Linked DNA regions of Homo sapiens. The protein of the gene in region 4 purifies or fractionates together with the protein of the main gene of each other region. This does not show direct contact. Each region holds a gene or a part of one and is shown on either strand. Other genes may lie near its edges.

Evidence for each region. The genes of interacting proteins can lie anywhere in the genome.
Region 1: the proteins of RCC1L (region 4) and GTPBP10 purify together in Homo sapiens (affinity purification with mass spectrometry, with the first as the bait; one study listed by BioGRID). This does not show direct contact.
Region 2: the proteins of RCC1L (region 4) and FASTKD2 purify together in Homo sapiens (affinity purification with mass spectrometry; one study listed by BioGRID). This does not show direct contact.
Region 3: the proteins of RCC1L (region 4) and MRPL45 fractionate together in Homo sapiens (co-fractionation; one large-scale study listed by BioGRID). This does not show direct contact.

What each region holds. Positions count from the first base shown.
Region 1 is NC_000007.14:90,370,705-90,374,215, forward strand, and holds part of GTPBP10 (GTP-binding protein 10), read left to right. Parts: intron 1-1,450; coding exon 1,451-1,524; intron 1,525-3,511. UniProt on the Homo sapiens protein: May be involved in the ribosome maturation process. Complements an ObgE(CgtA) function in E.coli ribosome maturation. Plays a role of GTPase in vitro. When missing, disorganization of the nucleolar architecture is observed.
Region 2 is NC_000002.12:206,786,095-206,789,605, reverse strand, and holds part of FASTKD2 (FAST kinase domain-containing protein 2, mitochondrial), read right to left. Parts: intron 2,874-3,511; coding exon 2,707-2,873; intron 1,670-2,706; coding exon 1,451-1,669; intron 788-1,450; coding exon 703-787; intron 1-702. UniProt on the Homo sapiens protein: Plays an important role in assembly of the mitochondrial large ribosomal subunit.
Region 3 is NC_000017.11:38,321,157-38,323,711, reverse strand, and holds the end of MRPL45 (large ribosomal subunit protein mL45), read right to left. Parts: intron 1,587-2,555; coding exon 1,413-1,586; intron 1,204-1,412; coding exon 1,117-1,203; 3' UTR 501-1,116; downstream 1-500.
Region 4 is NC_000007.14:75,048,805-75,054,189, reverse strand, and holds part of RCC1L (RCC1-like G exchanging factor-like protein), read left to right. Parts: intron 1-1,393; coding exon 1,394-1,479; intron 1,480-5,385. UniProt on the Homo sapiens protein: Guanine nucleotide exchange factor (GEF) for mitochondrial dynamin-related GTPase OPA1. Activates OPA1, by exchanging bound GDP for free GTP, and drives OPA1 and MFN1-dependent mitochondrial fusion. Plays an essential role in mitochondrial ribosome biogenesis.

The sequences.
Region 1 (3,511 bases), about 15 Mb from region 4:
AAAAACATTAAAAGAAATAGGTCGGACATGGTGGCTCACACCTGTAATCCCAGCACTCTGGGAGGCCAAGGTGGGCAGATCACGAGGTCAGGAGATTGAGACCATCCTGGCTAATATGGTGAAACCCCATCTCTACTGAAAATACAAAAAAAATTAGCCAGGCATTGTGGCGGGCGCCTGTAGTCCCATCTACTTGGGAGGCTGAGGCAGGAGAATGGCGTGAACCGGGAGGTGGAGCTTGCAGTGAGCCAAGATCACGCCACTGCACTCCAGCCTGGGCAACAGAGCGAGACTCCATCTCAATAGATAAATAAATAAATAAATAAATAAATAAATAAATAAATAGATATGAGCTATTAAGCTATGAAAAGATGAAAAAAGTTGCAAAAGTTTAAAGATAGTCATTGCATTGTTTAAAGTTATTTTAAAAAAACAAATAATACACACTTGTTTGCATAAAGAAAAAGTTGTCTATGAATTCCACCACCCAGAGATGACTATTAACAGTGTCTGTCTACCTGTATACACATTTTTTACAATGTTGTTTAGAGTGAAAAATTGTAGACAACCTGAAAGTCTGTCAATAGGAAATTAGTTAAGTAAATTACACTTCACCATTGAAAAGTGTTCACCTTATATGATTCAGTTTAAAGAGTAGGCCAAGCAACTATAAAGTAGTTTTCCCCTACTTCCTTCAAAAAAATATGAAAACTTGAACATTAAGACTCTATAAAAACTGCCAATTTTTTGCAGACAATAGAGGGAAAAAGAGCATGTTAAGTGTCCATGTAGGTGCTAGTAGAAAAATGAAGACTTTGGAAAAGAAACTCTGTAGGACAACTGACCCAGTTTCTTTAAAAATAAAATTGCAGATAGGAAACAAGATGGTAGGGGGAGCTTGAAAATAGATTTGAGACACACCGGGTATTTGTAACGTACAGACCTTACTTGGATTTCTATTCAAACCAAATTTTAAGAAGTATATTGCCAATGTATTAATATTTGTTGAAGCTAGGTGATAGCTAAATGGAATTCATTACACCTCTCTACTTTTGTATATGTTTGAAACTGTCTATAAAATTTTTTTTTAAAGCAGTTTACAAAACAAGGTAATGTTTTGTCAGTGTATAGCTGGAGTTAGAAAGTTACAGGTGTTTTTCTTTTTTTTCTTTAATTTCTGTTTTTTCTATGACTTCCAATGGGTTTTTATTTTTAAATCATAATTGGAATAATTATTATACACTTTAAATATTGAAACATCTTCAGTGTCCAGCATGAATTTATCTTTACCTTTTATGTAAGTGTATGTTCTCAAGTTTTTCAAGATTATTTATAATACATTTATATTCTACTTTTAATCCCAAATATATTCATGAAGTCTACTTGAATTGTTAGGAATTCAGAGATAATAATATTGACATTTGTGTATAATTTTATATTCTTGTTTCAGATTCCCAAATGCTGGAAAATCCTCTTTGCTAAGTTGTGTTTCTCATGCAAAACCTGCAATTGCAGATTACGCATGTAAGTGTAATTTGATTGTACATTTTAATGAGTGGAGGTAAACTTTTAAAGACTAATATTTCTCTGAGAATGAATAAAATGATAACTCGGAGGGTATCCTTAACTGAAAAATTTTTGGCAGATAGACTACTGTTGCACAGGCCAAAGTGCAGTTGCATGATCATGGCTCACTGCAGCCCAGGCTCAAGCCATCCCCCTGCATCAGCCTCCCATGTAGATGGGACTACAGGTATGTGCCACCATGCTTGGCTAACTTTTTTTTTTTTTTTGTGGGGACAGGGGTTTCGCCATGTTGCCCAGGCTGGTCTTGAACTCCTAGGCTCAAGTGATCTCCCACCTTGGCCTTCTAAATTGCTGGGTTATAGGTGTGAGCCACCCTCCCCAGCCATATTTTCCATTAATCTTTGAAACCTCTATACCCCTCAGCAAAGTTGCTTAAACAGGTTAGACACTTACTTTATTGCATTTATTTTTCTGTCACAGAATCGTTTATTTGGTTTAGTTAGGATTTTATGAACCACTTACCTTTTATCAGGCACTGTGATAAGTACCAGGAAGGTACTTATCATTCATTTAGCAGATACTTATTTTTGGAGCCACATTAGGTTCTGGGATTACAAAGACTGATAAACAGAAACAGCTCCTGTTTTGACTTGTATTGAGTTTGTAGACTAGTGGAGTAAGGCGTACATATCACTAATAAATATAAGGGAATATGAAAGGGTACTATGAAAGAGTATAGATGACTGCTCTAGGCTTCCTTAAGGATGTGTGATTTTTGGACTGGGATATGAGGAATAATTATGAGGTAATTAGTAAAATAGAGTGGAGGGTGAAGGGTCTTTAATCAGAGGAAATAGTATGTACACAAAGCCTTAGTGGTGGCAGGGAGTAGATTTGTGTGTCTAGAGAACATGAAATAAGGGAAAGAATCGAGATGAGCCTGGAGATGTAAGAGAGCATGTCACATAGACCATTTAGGCTGTATTTGATTTTTATATCTTAAGAGCAATTGGAAGCATTTAAGCAAGGGATAAAATGCTTAGGTTTGCTCCTCACAGAGATCTCGGCCTGTAATGTAGAAAATGGATTGGTGTGGGACATGAAGGGTCTGAGACAACCAGTTAGTAGGCTCTTGTGGTAGCTAGATGAGATATAAAAGAAGCTTTGGTTAAAAGTAGTGAGTATGATAAGATCTCTGCCATCATTAAAAGGACACAGAATGCCATTAACTTGGAAAATAAAATCAAGCCATTCTAAAATTAGACTGTGACGAAGTAGAGTGAAGTTTGGACTAAGTGCTATAAATCACAAGGCCAATATTTGTTATAATATATGTAGGACTTGAGAAGGAAGAGCAAAAAGTCATAGGAAAGAGGCTAGCGTAGGATTGATGAGGCTTAAGGATAACAATGAGAAGGAACTAGAGGATAACTGAATGAGAAGGAACTAGAAAAATTTCAGCCACAGATCCAGTGATAGAAACTTAATATCTGACCCTCCTGAACATCTATCACTCACCTTAAAGTGCAATAGAAGAACGTTGAGGTTCAGTAATTACATTAGGCCTATACAGATTATAAAAATCTGTGTTTGTCTTTTTCCAAATACTATTTATTCATTTATTTTAGAGACAGGGTCTAGCTATGTCACCCAGGCAGGAGTACAGTGGCATGATCATACCTCACTGTAACTTTGAACTCCTGGGCTCAAGCAATCCTCCCACCTCAGCCTCTGGAGTAGCTAGGACTACAGGTGCACTGCCATGTCTGCCTAGTTTTACATTTTTTGTAGAAACAGGGTCTCACTATGCTGCCCAGGCTCATCTTGAACTCCTAGCTTCAAATGATCCTCCTGCCTTGGCTTCCCAAAGCATTGGGATTACAGACATGAGCCACAACATTTGGCCCTCCAAGTACATATTAAATAGCAAAGATAATAATAGTTTCCATTTTAGCAAATTAGAACAAAATCTGAATTGAAATAT
Region 2 (3,511 bases), on a different chromosome or scaffold from region 4:
TGTGTGTGTGTGTGTCCAGTGGAGTTAACAGAAGATACAAGTTCCTTGGGGTCAGGATCCATGTAGCAGAGCTTTTACATAAAGGGTAACTGACCCACGGGTGTGTGCAATGATGGCATGATCTTATGCATCTACTGAAGAGGCAGGATGTTCTCTCATGGTATAGCATCATATTTCTCCCCAGAGACACTCTATTTGTAATGTGTGAGCCAAAGAAACAACTTAGGATTAGCTTCAATGTGCTCTAACCCATACAAATACAGTTTAATTAAAAAACTACGGTTTCTCTACCTCTGGAAAAGTCTTGGTGGTAGAGCAAAATATTTATTGGGTATTTGATTTTTGTAGAAGCCTCGAGTCTTTATTCTTTATGATCACTATTATATTATCTTGTCCAAAGTCTACACTGCATTGATAGTTTCAATTATATTAATATTGTTTTATTGAACTATAGCTTCAAAACCTAATTTTAAAAAAATGTCTGTCTCATTAAATGACCAATACTGTAGTCCATTGTATTCAACCATAACGTCCACATTTACACTTTCTAAGGAGTACATTGATGGATGACAAGTCTCTTGGTGTGCTGCAGGCTCCATACAAACATCAAGTCTTAGATTTACTACTGCTATTTAATATGAAGTCTTTTAGAATTAGGATTTTAATTCAGAAAGCCCAGCAAATGAAATATATGTAAGCAACCTTTGAATATCTGTAGCAGAAGTTGTATCCACATCAGAAAGTGGTAGCACTTGATTCCTGTTAGTGTCCATTCTGATTTCAAAATCTGAAAGGAAAGAATTGATATTAATTTTTCAAACATTCCTCCAAGTGACTTTCTTTTTCTTTTCTTTTCCTTTTTTTTTTTTTTTTTGAGATGTGGTCTCGCTCTGTCATCCAGGCTGGAGTGCAGTAGTGTGATCTCAGCTCACTGCAGCAACTTCCCAGGTTCAAGCAATCCTTTTACCCCACCCTGTTGAGTAGCTGGGACTACAGGGGCATGCCATCACGCCCATCTAAGTTTTGTATTTTTTTGGTAGAGACAGGATTTTACCATTTGGTCAGGCTGGTCTTGAACTCCTGAGCTCCAGTGATCCACCTGCCTCGGCCTCTCCACATGCTAGGATTACAGGCGTGTGCCACCGTGACCAGCCCCAAGTGATTTTCTGTTTCAAAATGTTTAATAGTACTACCAATAATGATAATAGCAGTAGCTAAAATATATTGAGAGCTAACCATGTGTCAGATACTAGTCTTGGGATTTTAGACACATAAAAATGTGTAGAATTTCATTTATTGGTCACAAGAATTTTATGAGGCAAGAATCAGGCCAGTTCCAGAGGCAATGCTGCACTACACTAAACTGCTGCCACAAATACCTATTTTTTTGGTCAGAAAAAAAGGAAAATAAATACAATAAAATGAAAGGAAATCATATAATGTCCCATACCAATATGATAATTGTGTGGCAAGTGCACATCCTTTGAGAAGTGTCCTTCACCTCCCAGAAGGCTGCTCAGCACCTCTGCCACCTTTGCATTTGTATGTGACGATGGCAGCTCCCGCGGCAGCTGTGGGAGTGACAAGGCTATGTCCCTCAGATAGACAGTATCATCAAGTTTTAGACAAGTATCCAAAGTATGCAGCTTGTAAGCATTCTTCATGTCATCTAAAAGATGAAAAAGAGAGTATATCATTAAGAAGAAATAAATGCAACATTAAAAAACTATATTAGTATATATTTAGTAATAGTTATAAAATAATAAATATATACATAAATGCACTTGTATTTCTAATTATCTCTTTCTTATCACAAGGACTCTCTCTTTGTCTCCCTGGTTTCCACAGGGTCTAAATCAAAGCCCTGCACTTGATAATGTTTTAAGGCTTCAAATATCTTTAGAGGTCATTTAGTCTAAACTCCTCAATTTATGGATAAGGAAATGCCCAGGAAAGTTAAAAAGCCTCGTAATTAAGGCAAAGTTGGAACTAGAATCCAGGTTTCCAAGGTTCAAGGCTGTTTCTCCATTATTACACTGCCTGAAAAACCAGCACGTGGTATTATTGACTGACTCTCTACAACTCAACTTTGGGATTTTATAACATTTATTTATTTATGTTTTAATTCTGAACTACTCTATTCTCAGACACATCGTCAAATTTTGTACATCTACCTGAATATTGCTTTGCCTTATTTAATACTAAAGACTAAAAGTCAACAGTTAATTTGGTTCCAAGAGTAAATGAACTAATTAATTTGGTGGCTATTTGGTTTCTTGATCTAACAGGTGTTCCCTCATCACAGGCCAGGAGTGACCAAGTGTTTACAGCTGCAAAAATTGACTTAGGTTGGCTTCAAATGTGATAAGTAAGGATTAGGAATTAAAACAGCTCTGATCAAAGCATAAAGAACAGCCTGAACAGTTAGCCTTTGTATAGAAGGATAGAGTATAAATAAAAGGAATAATGATGCATTCCTTATTTTTTTCTACATGTAGGACTTGTCATTAAAGAAGGGTCTGTAGGTTTGCTGCTTTGAAGCACTATCCTTTGACTTCACCATTATCAGCCCTTTCCACAGCAACACCTGCTCTGCAAATTTCAACTAACACTGCTCCAACTAAGACCCCATTCAGAGTCATATGGTAGCTAGTGGTAGTGCAGAATTGGTCACAATTGGTGACCAATTCTGCACTAACATCCTACCTGATGTCAGCAGCTCACTGATGATGTCTTTTTGCAGAAGCTGATTAAAAGGAGCCAGGGGAAAGTAATTCATCAAGCAAAATGAATATACTGCATCCAATAAGTTTTCAGAAGAAATAGTGTGAAGATAACCAGTCAGAGCACTAGCCATAACTTCCACGAACTGTCTGGGGAACAAAGAAAAGTCAGTTTCCCAACATATACAGAAGGCCAATATCTGTAACGATTCCAAAGAAAAGAGATAAGAAAATCAGCCTTGCAAGTAAGTATCCACACATCATTCTGGACAGTTGGTTATCTCATAATAAGTGTATACATTCAATAAATGTTGGCTATTGCTGTATGTCTTGCACGAGACAAACATTTTATAGACTTTAACTCATTTAACTCACACTAAAAAACTCCATGGGTATTACTATTATTCTCCTCATTTAAAAAAATGGGTAAACAGGCTTAGAGATTGAGTAACTTGTCTAAGAACACACAGACAAGGAAGTAGCAAAGGCAGTATTAGAACATAAGGTGTCAGGCTCCAGAACCTTTTCATAATTATGCTAGATTTTCTATAACGCCTGGACCACCACTACAGTTTTATAACCAACTAAAATTATCTAGTTATCAATACTATGGGTTAAAAGAACTGCAAGCCTAATCCTACCACCCACAGCTAATGGTACACAGTATAACGTGGTTAAGCACAAATGAAGACAGAAAAGATCAAAATCAGGGGCAGTCGCTTGCCCAGAGTGACACCACTAATAAATGGTAGATACCCTTTGAACACACGTCAATCTGATTCTCAGGG
Region 3 (2,555 bases), on a different chromosome or scaffold from region 4:
TCAAAAATCAGCCAGGCATGGTGGCACATGCCTGTAGTCCCAGCTACATGGGAAGCTGAGGCAGGAGAATAGCTTGAATCCAGGAGGTGGAGCTTGCAGTGAGCCGAGATCGTGCCACTGCACTCCAGCCTGGGCCTGACAGAGCAAGACTCCATCTCTAAAAAACAAAATAAAACAAAAACAAAGTGATTTCTCTTGTCACACTCAGATGGCCTAGGACACATGGGCATGTGAGGTCCCACACCCTTTTAACAGCCCATCTGGAGCTAAGGAACAAGGAGGGGCTGGCCTATTTTCCTCTGCACAGGTTCATACTTTTGTACACTCACCTTCAATACTGGGCTGGAAAGAACAGTCCCCATCTCCAAATGGTGCTAGAAATCAGGGAACCAAGTACTGCAGATAAATTTTCCAAATGTAACAACCTCTCCATGGCCCCTGCCTCCCCCAACACTTCCTGATACAGCTAATAATTAAGAACACAATCAAAGGCTAAGGGATAAATTATTTCTTTGGATTTATATTTTTCCATAAAATGCAAATGCTGATTCATCAGTGAGTCAGTATATGAAAAAGGGCCTCTTAAATGTCTTATAAACACTAATTATTCTTCCCCAGTCTTCATTTCCTTAAAGTCACATCGCTCACAAGTAGGCTCATCTTCCACTTCTGCCATCTGAAGGCTGGTCCATGCCCAGCCTGAACCAGGGGAAATGTGCAGAACTCACCAAAATTTTTCCAACACCCTGACAACATTTCATTTCAAACTCTGATCCCTGCCCTGTGATTACAAAGAGGATGCTGCTGGTTGTCTCTCACAGTCCCTGCTGTGGGAAAAACTGATATCCAATGTTCTCTGAAACATACTGTCTTTCATCTAGACTCAGAAGCTAGACATAAAATTTAAAAAAGAAGAGTGTCCATGGCCATGTTATACCTGCCACCTGCTAGGGCCCAGTCATCAGTCATGGTTGCTGATGATGAGACTGCTGAAAAGACCTGAGCAGGATGGGAGAGAACAAAGGTAGTTCTTTTTATAGCATGAGGGGAATGGGAGACTTCAAAGCTTCCAGCAGCCTCATCACCCAGGCTTCACCCTAGAAGTCATTTTTGTCATCAGGCTAGCTGAGGCTTCTGGGCCTCTCCTTGTGCCTCTTCATATTCTTCTTCTGGTTTCAGCTGAGGGCCAGGGATCATCACCGTCTGAAAGAGTAGGACGCCAGGTTACCCACCAACCAAGCCCATGGCTGACCCAGAAGAGCTTCATCCCTTGCTCCCACCCACCCACCCACCCGGCCTTCCCTTCCTGGGTGGTGCATCACCCCCTCTCGCCACTAGGTGGAGCCCGACAGAGTGGCTTAGGAGACCACGAGTAGTGCCTCAGCTCTCTTAAACCATGCAAGCCACCTTACCTTAAGGATGGGCTGCTTAGGGGGTGCCCATGGGGGAACGATCTTGGTATGCATTCTCCAGCTTCCATAGGGGTTTGTCAACTGCTTTTCGAATACAACATACTCCAGGACATCCTTGGGTACATCTTCCTGTCCATACATCAACCGGCCAAACCGGTCATAGATGGCCAGAGTCTGCAAGGATAAAAGCAAATCTGGCCTCTTAGTTTTTTTGGTGTGTGAGTGTGAGTTGTTTGTTTTATTGCCATACAACCTTTTTTTTTTTTTTGAGACAGAGTCTCACTCTGTTGCCCTGGCTGGAGTGCAGTGGCATGATCTCAGCTCACTGCAACCTCTACCTCCTGGGTTCAAGCAATTCTCCTGCCTCAGCCTCCCAAGTAGCTGGGATTACAGGCACGTGCCACCACTCCTGGATGATTTTTTTTGTCTTTTTTAGTAGAGATGGGGTGTCACCATGTTGACCCAGCTGTCCAACTCCTGACCTCAGGTGATCCACCCGCTTCGGCCTCTCAAAGTGCTGGGATTACAGGCGTGAGCCACTGCACCCAGCCTGCCACACAACCATTTTTGAAACCACCATAAGAAAAATCTTTTTAAATTTTTTTTTTTTGGAGACGGAGTCTTGCTGTTGCCCAGGCTGGAGTGCAGTGGTACGGTATCGTCTCACTGCAACCTCCGCCTTCCAGGTTCAAGCGATTCTCCTGCCTCAGCCTCCTGAGTAGGTGGGACTACGGGCACACACCATGATGCCCGGCCAATTTTTCTATTTGTAGTGTACACAGTGTTTTGCCATGTTGGCCAGGCTGGTCTTGAACTCCTGACCTTGTGATCTGCCTGCCGTGGCCTCCCAAAGTGCTGGGATTACAGGCATGAGTTACTGTGCCCAGCCAGAAAAAATCTTAATGGGTAGAAAAAAAGTTATCTCGGAATTCTGAATCTAGGACTATCTGATCAACTACTGACACTTTATTCTTACAAGTTCTTTGACAGGGGGCAGAGAGACGGGGAAGTCAAGACCAAGAAGGAGTGGGGCACAATGGCTCATGCCTATAGTCCCAGCACTTTGGGAGGCTGAGGTGGGTGGATCACTTGAGCTCAGGAGTCTGAGACCAGCTTGGGCAAAATGACAAGACTGGTCTCTAC
Region 4 (5,385 bases):
GCTCATGCTTGTAATCCCAGCACTTTGGGAGGCCAAGATGAGAGGATCCCTCAAAGCCCAGGAGTTCGAGACTAGCCTAGGCAACATAGTGAGATCCCTTTTCTACAAAAAATACAGAAATTAGCTGGGTGTGGTGGTGTGCGCCTGTAGTCCCAGCTACTCTGGAGGCTGAGGTGGAAGGACTGCTTGAGTTTGAGAGTTCAAGGCTGCAGTGAGCTATGTTTGTGCCACTGCGTCGCAGCCTGGGCAGCAGAGTGAGACCCTGTCTCAAAAGCAAACAAACACACACACACAAAAACTATCTAAGGTCTGAGTGTGGAGAACAAGGGGCATGCTTAGATCAGGGGCCTAAGACAGCTTGTAATTATTCCGTACTTCATCAGCCCCAGGTCTTGTAGTCCTGGCTTTTCCATGTCACTTCCTCTGCCTCCCATGACCCAAGCCTTTTGCCCAACAGCTGATGGTGACATGGGCCCAGGAGTGCCCCAGCTGGTGCAGACAGAGTCCCACCTGAAGGCCGGGCTAGGAGAGGCCATCTCCTGGGTTGACCTCTTAAACAGCATCTTGTACTTTTTCTTCATGACAGTTTTTACAGTTTGTAAACATATATTAAAATCATCTGTCTGTTCCGTCTCTGGCCAGTCCCCAGCTCCTGGAACACAGACCTAGACCCAGCACAAGCAGGCACTTGGTCATTAGATGCCCTGTGGCTGAATGCTCCCAAGATATGGACAATCAATCCAGGAATGACAAATTGTCTTACTTTTCACTGTCAAATCAGGAAGCCCAGGGTGTCGCCAGGATTTGTGGAAGGCAGAGTTTGGTGGCACACGATTGTGGGCGGGGCACAAGGGGTGAGCAGAGTGGGCCGTGTGCATCAGTGACCTCCAGCCCCGTGCACCACCCCCAGACCCCAGCTCCATGCACCACCCCCAGACCTGTCCACCACCCCCAGACCCCAACTCCATGCACTACCCCCAGCCCTGTCCACCACCCCCAGACCCCAGCTCCATGCACCACCCCCAGCCCTGTCCACCACCCCCAGACCCCAGCTCCATGCACCACCCCCAGCCCCGTGCACCACCCCCAGACCCCAGCTCCATGCATCACCCCCAGCCCCGTGCACTGCCCCCTGCCCCATCTTCATTTGAGTGCTCATCTCCCACGTGGGTGGATGCAGCAGAAGTCCTGGCCGTGGATGTGTTTTCGATATGGGGACAGCATCTCAGACCCTTACTTTTGCCTTCAAAGAAAGCATGAACGCCTGGTAAAAGCTGAACAGTGGGCTCTGTAGGTATCTGGTTCTAGAAAGCCTGTTCTCATGACCCATCCTCTCCTTGGAGACTTGTTCTTCACACAGTCCCAACCAACCCCTGTTTTCCTCCCTTTGCAGACAAAGGAGAGCTGTTTGTATGGGGCAAGAACATCCGAGGGTGCCTGGGAATCGGTCGCCTGGAGGACCAGTATTTCCCATGGAGGGTAAGGCTGGCCGGGGAGGTCTTGAGAATGGATGCTAAGAGTAGAGTCACCTGACGTCACTGCAGACACCTCGCGTGCAGATGGGCCAGGACGAGGGCCATGGGACCTGCTCCCCCTTCCGGGTCCTGGCTGCACTCCTGCAGCGCGGCATGCTATGTCATTGCACACTCTGTGGTGACACCCATGAGATACCCGTGGTGCATCTGCATGGTGTGATGCGTGGGGGAGTGACACCAGGCTTCTTGGGGTGCAGGAGCTGGGTCAACCCATCCCGGCCCACTGACTGGGAGGTTGGAGGGAGTAGCCCACTCAAGCATCCAGTCCTATAAGAAGCCCTGTCGGAGGCCATCCTTGGGGTGGATCGGGGAAACAGAGGCACGATGGTGCAAAGGCTCTGGTAGGGTGCCATGAGGCTCCGGAGAGGGGGAGATATTGGATGAAGTTGGCACGCTAGAAGCTGTTTACAGAAGCCCATGTGGGGGAATGCTTCACAATGAATTTAAAAGAAAGCAGGATGTTTAATATTTAGATGGCCCAACCGCAGCTATGAAGTGAAAAAATAAAGTCGCTTCCTTAGGGGCGGTAGTATGCAATTAGACAAAAAGGCTCCTTCCAGAATTACAGGGGAAGAGACGCTCATTCTAAAATTGTAGTTTACCTTAGTGTTGTTTACTAAGTCAGTTCTTTAAGGCATTCTAAAAAAGGAGGTTTTTGGGGTTTTTTGAACATGAAACATATGTTCATGGTACAAAAAAATGCACTATGGAAAATGAGTCTCCCACCACCCAGTTTTTGTTCCAGAGGCAGCCACTGGTCCTGATTTCTTTATGTTCCTTTCCAGAGATAGTCTCTGCATAGAGACTGGTGTGCATGCGTGCTTTGTGTGTGTGTGCCTGTGAGTACATACATGTGTGTGCAGTGTGCATATGGGTGTATTTTATCAGAAGGTTGGATTTTAATTTGTTTTGAAATTGTGAAAAGCGTTTTTAAAAAGGACTTGCACCAGGTGTGGTGTCTCACACCTGTAATCCCAGCGCTTGGGGAGGCCCAGGTGGGTGGATCACAAGGTCAGGAGTTCGAGACCAGTCTGACCAACATGATGAAACCCCATGTCTATTAAAAATACAAAAATTAGCCAGGCATGGTGGCACACGCCTGTAATCCCAGCTACTTGGGAGGCTGAGGCAGGAAATCACTTGAACCCGGGAGGCAGAGGTTGCAGTGAGCCAAGATCAGACGCTGCTGCACTCCAGCCTGGGCAACAGAGGGAGACTGTGTCTCAAAAAAAAACAAAGGACTTGCAAAAGAAATGTGTATATATATATGTGTGTATATATATATGTGTGTATATATATGTGTGTGTGTATATATATGTGTGTGTGTGTGTATATATGTGTGTATATATATATGTATGTATTTATATGTGTGTGTATATATGTGTGTATATATACACACACACATATAAATATATATACATATATAATACATTTATATTATACGTTTATATATATTAAATATATATATATATATATTTTTTCCAAGACTATCGGTGGAGGCTCTGAGAAAGCAAGTTGAAATGGAGACTTTAACTTTGTTTTTTTGTTTTTGCTTATTATGAGACAGGGTCTCACTTTTATCACTCAGGCTGGATTGCAGTGATGTGATCACAGCTCACTGCAGCCTTGACCTTCCTGGGCTCAGGTGATCCTCCCACCTCAGCCTCCTGAATAGCTGGGACCACAGGCGTACACCACCACACCTGACAAATTTTTTTATTTTTAGTAGAGATGGGAGTCTCACTATGTTGCCCAGGCTGGTCTCAAACTTCCGGCTTCAAGCAATCTGCCTCCCTCAGCTTCCCAAAGTGCTGGGATTACAGGCATGACCCATCACGCCCGGGCGACTTTAGCCTTGTTGGAAAGCTGTTTGTATAATAGAGTTGTTCCCAAGGTGGTGGGGCTTGCCGGCTTTCTCCTGAGCCTGGAAACTGCCGGTGTGAGGAACAGAGAGTCGGGCAGTGGGTGTGGCTCAGATAATGTGAGCATCAGTCATCTACATGCCCACTTGCTTTCTCACTGACTCCTCTCTTCTCTCACTTTGCCCTTTCTTTCGAAAAGGACTTCCTTCTGAGGGGGGAACTTGGGAAACAGTTAAAGCAGCCGGGTTTTGGGTGAAAGAACGCTGACGAGGGTCTGCCCCCCGCCCTCATTTCCTTCAAATCAGAGTGATCAGCCTGAGATTTGACTCAGGTCACGTTGCCCCTGCCATAAGGGCATGTGCAAAGCGCTGGTCCCTGTGCGGGCAGGGAGTGGCCGGAGCCCGATCCCGTTGACATTCCATCTGGGTCACTTGCCCTGGCTCGCCACACACCAAGTGTCCTTCTGGTCATTTGCTTTTTATTTTTATTTTTATTTTATTATTATTGTTTTGAGATGGAGTCTTGCTCTGTTGCCCAGGCTTGAGTGCAGTGGCATGATCTCAGCTCACTGAAACCTCCACCTTCCGGGTTCAAGTGATTCTCCTTCCTCAGCCTCCCTGGTAGCTGGGATTACAGGTGCATGCCACGACGCCTGGCTATCATTTGCTTTTTAAACACATTTGTGCCTTTGGGAAAAGAGCACCCCAGCCTGTCCCCGTGACGGCGGCATTTGGCGCCAAACCATTGTCCTTCCTCTTGCACATTCAGGGAGCCCCTAAGGGTTTGTGCACGGAGTGGCCTCGACCCCTGTCCTCTTTGGATTGGGGTGGGAGAGTCCAGTCCCTTCTGATGACTCACTTAAAAAAAAAATTACAAGTGATTTTTCTTTTCTTTGTTTTGTTTGTTTGTTCTTTTAGACAGGGTCTTGCTCTGTCACCCAAGCTGGAGTGTGGTGACAGGATCTCGGCTCACTGCAGCCTCTGTCTCCCAGGTTCAAGTGATCCTCCTATCTCAGCCTCCCGAGTAGCTGGGATTACAGGCTTGCACAACCACACCTTGCTAATTTTTGTATTTTTTGTAGAGATGGGGTCTTGCCGTGTTGCCCAGGATTTTTTTTTTTTTTTGAAAACAGGGTCTTGCTTTGTCGCCCAGGCTGGAGTATGGTGTGATCACACTCACTGCAGCCTCAAACTCCCAGGCTCAAGCTATCCTCCTGCCTCAGCCCCACAAGTAACTGAGATGTGGGATGGGATGACAGGCATGTGCCAGCACCACACCCAAATAATTTTTTTTTCGTTTTTTTTTTAAGAGACGGGGTCTTATGTGTTGATCTCAACCTCCTGGTCTCAAGTGATCCTCTTGCTTCAGCCTCTGGAATAGCTGAGATTACAGGCATGTGCCACCACACACGGCTTATTTTATTATTTATATTTATTTGTTTTATTTTATTTATTTGAGAGATGAGGTCTTCCTATGTTGCCCAGGCTGGTCTCAAACTTCTGCCTCAAGTGGTCTTCCCACCTTGGCCTCACAAAATGTTGGAACTACAGGGGTGAGTCACTGGCTTGGGTGATCTTTATTCTTTAAAACAACTATGTTCAAATTAATCTTCCGTAGGGGATATATTACATCATTTAAAAAGTATTCCAGAAAAGAAGAGAAAAAAAGAGTAAAACTTTACTTGTAGCTCATACACTGGTACCAACTAGTTATTCTTAGACTTGCAGAATTTGGCCTTTTCTGAGTATGTGGGCCCGGGAGGTGACATCTGAGCCACCTGATTCAAACCTCTGCTTCCAGAAACTTTCCAGGACATGTTTTTTTGCTACACGTTGAGACTCATCCCTCAGAGAGGTTCAGTGGTTTCCCAGGGTCACATATCTAAGTTGGAGTCAGAGCCAGGATTTGGACTCAGTTACATCTGACTTTTAAGACAATGGTCTTTCCACGGCCACCCACCTCCCTGGGCGAGCCTGAAGCTGGTGTGG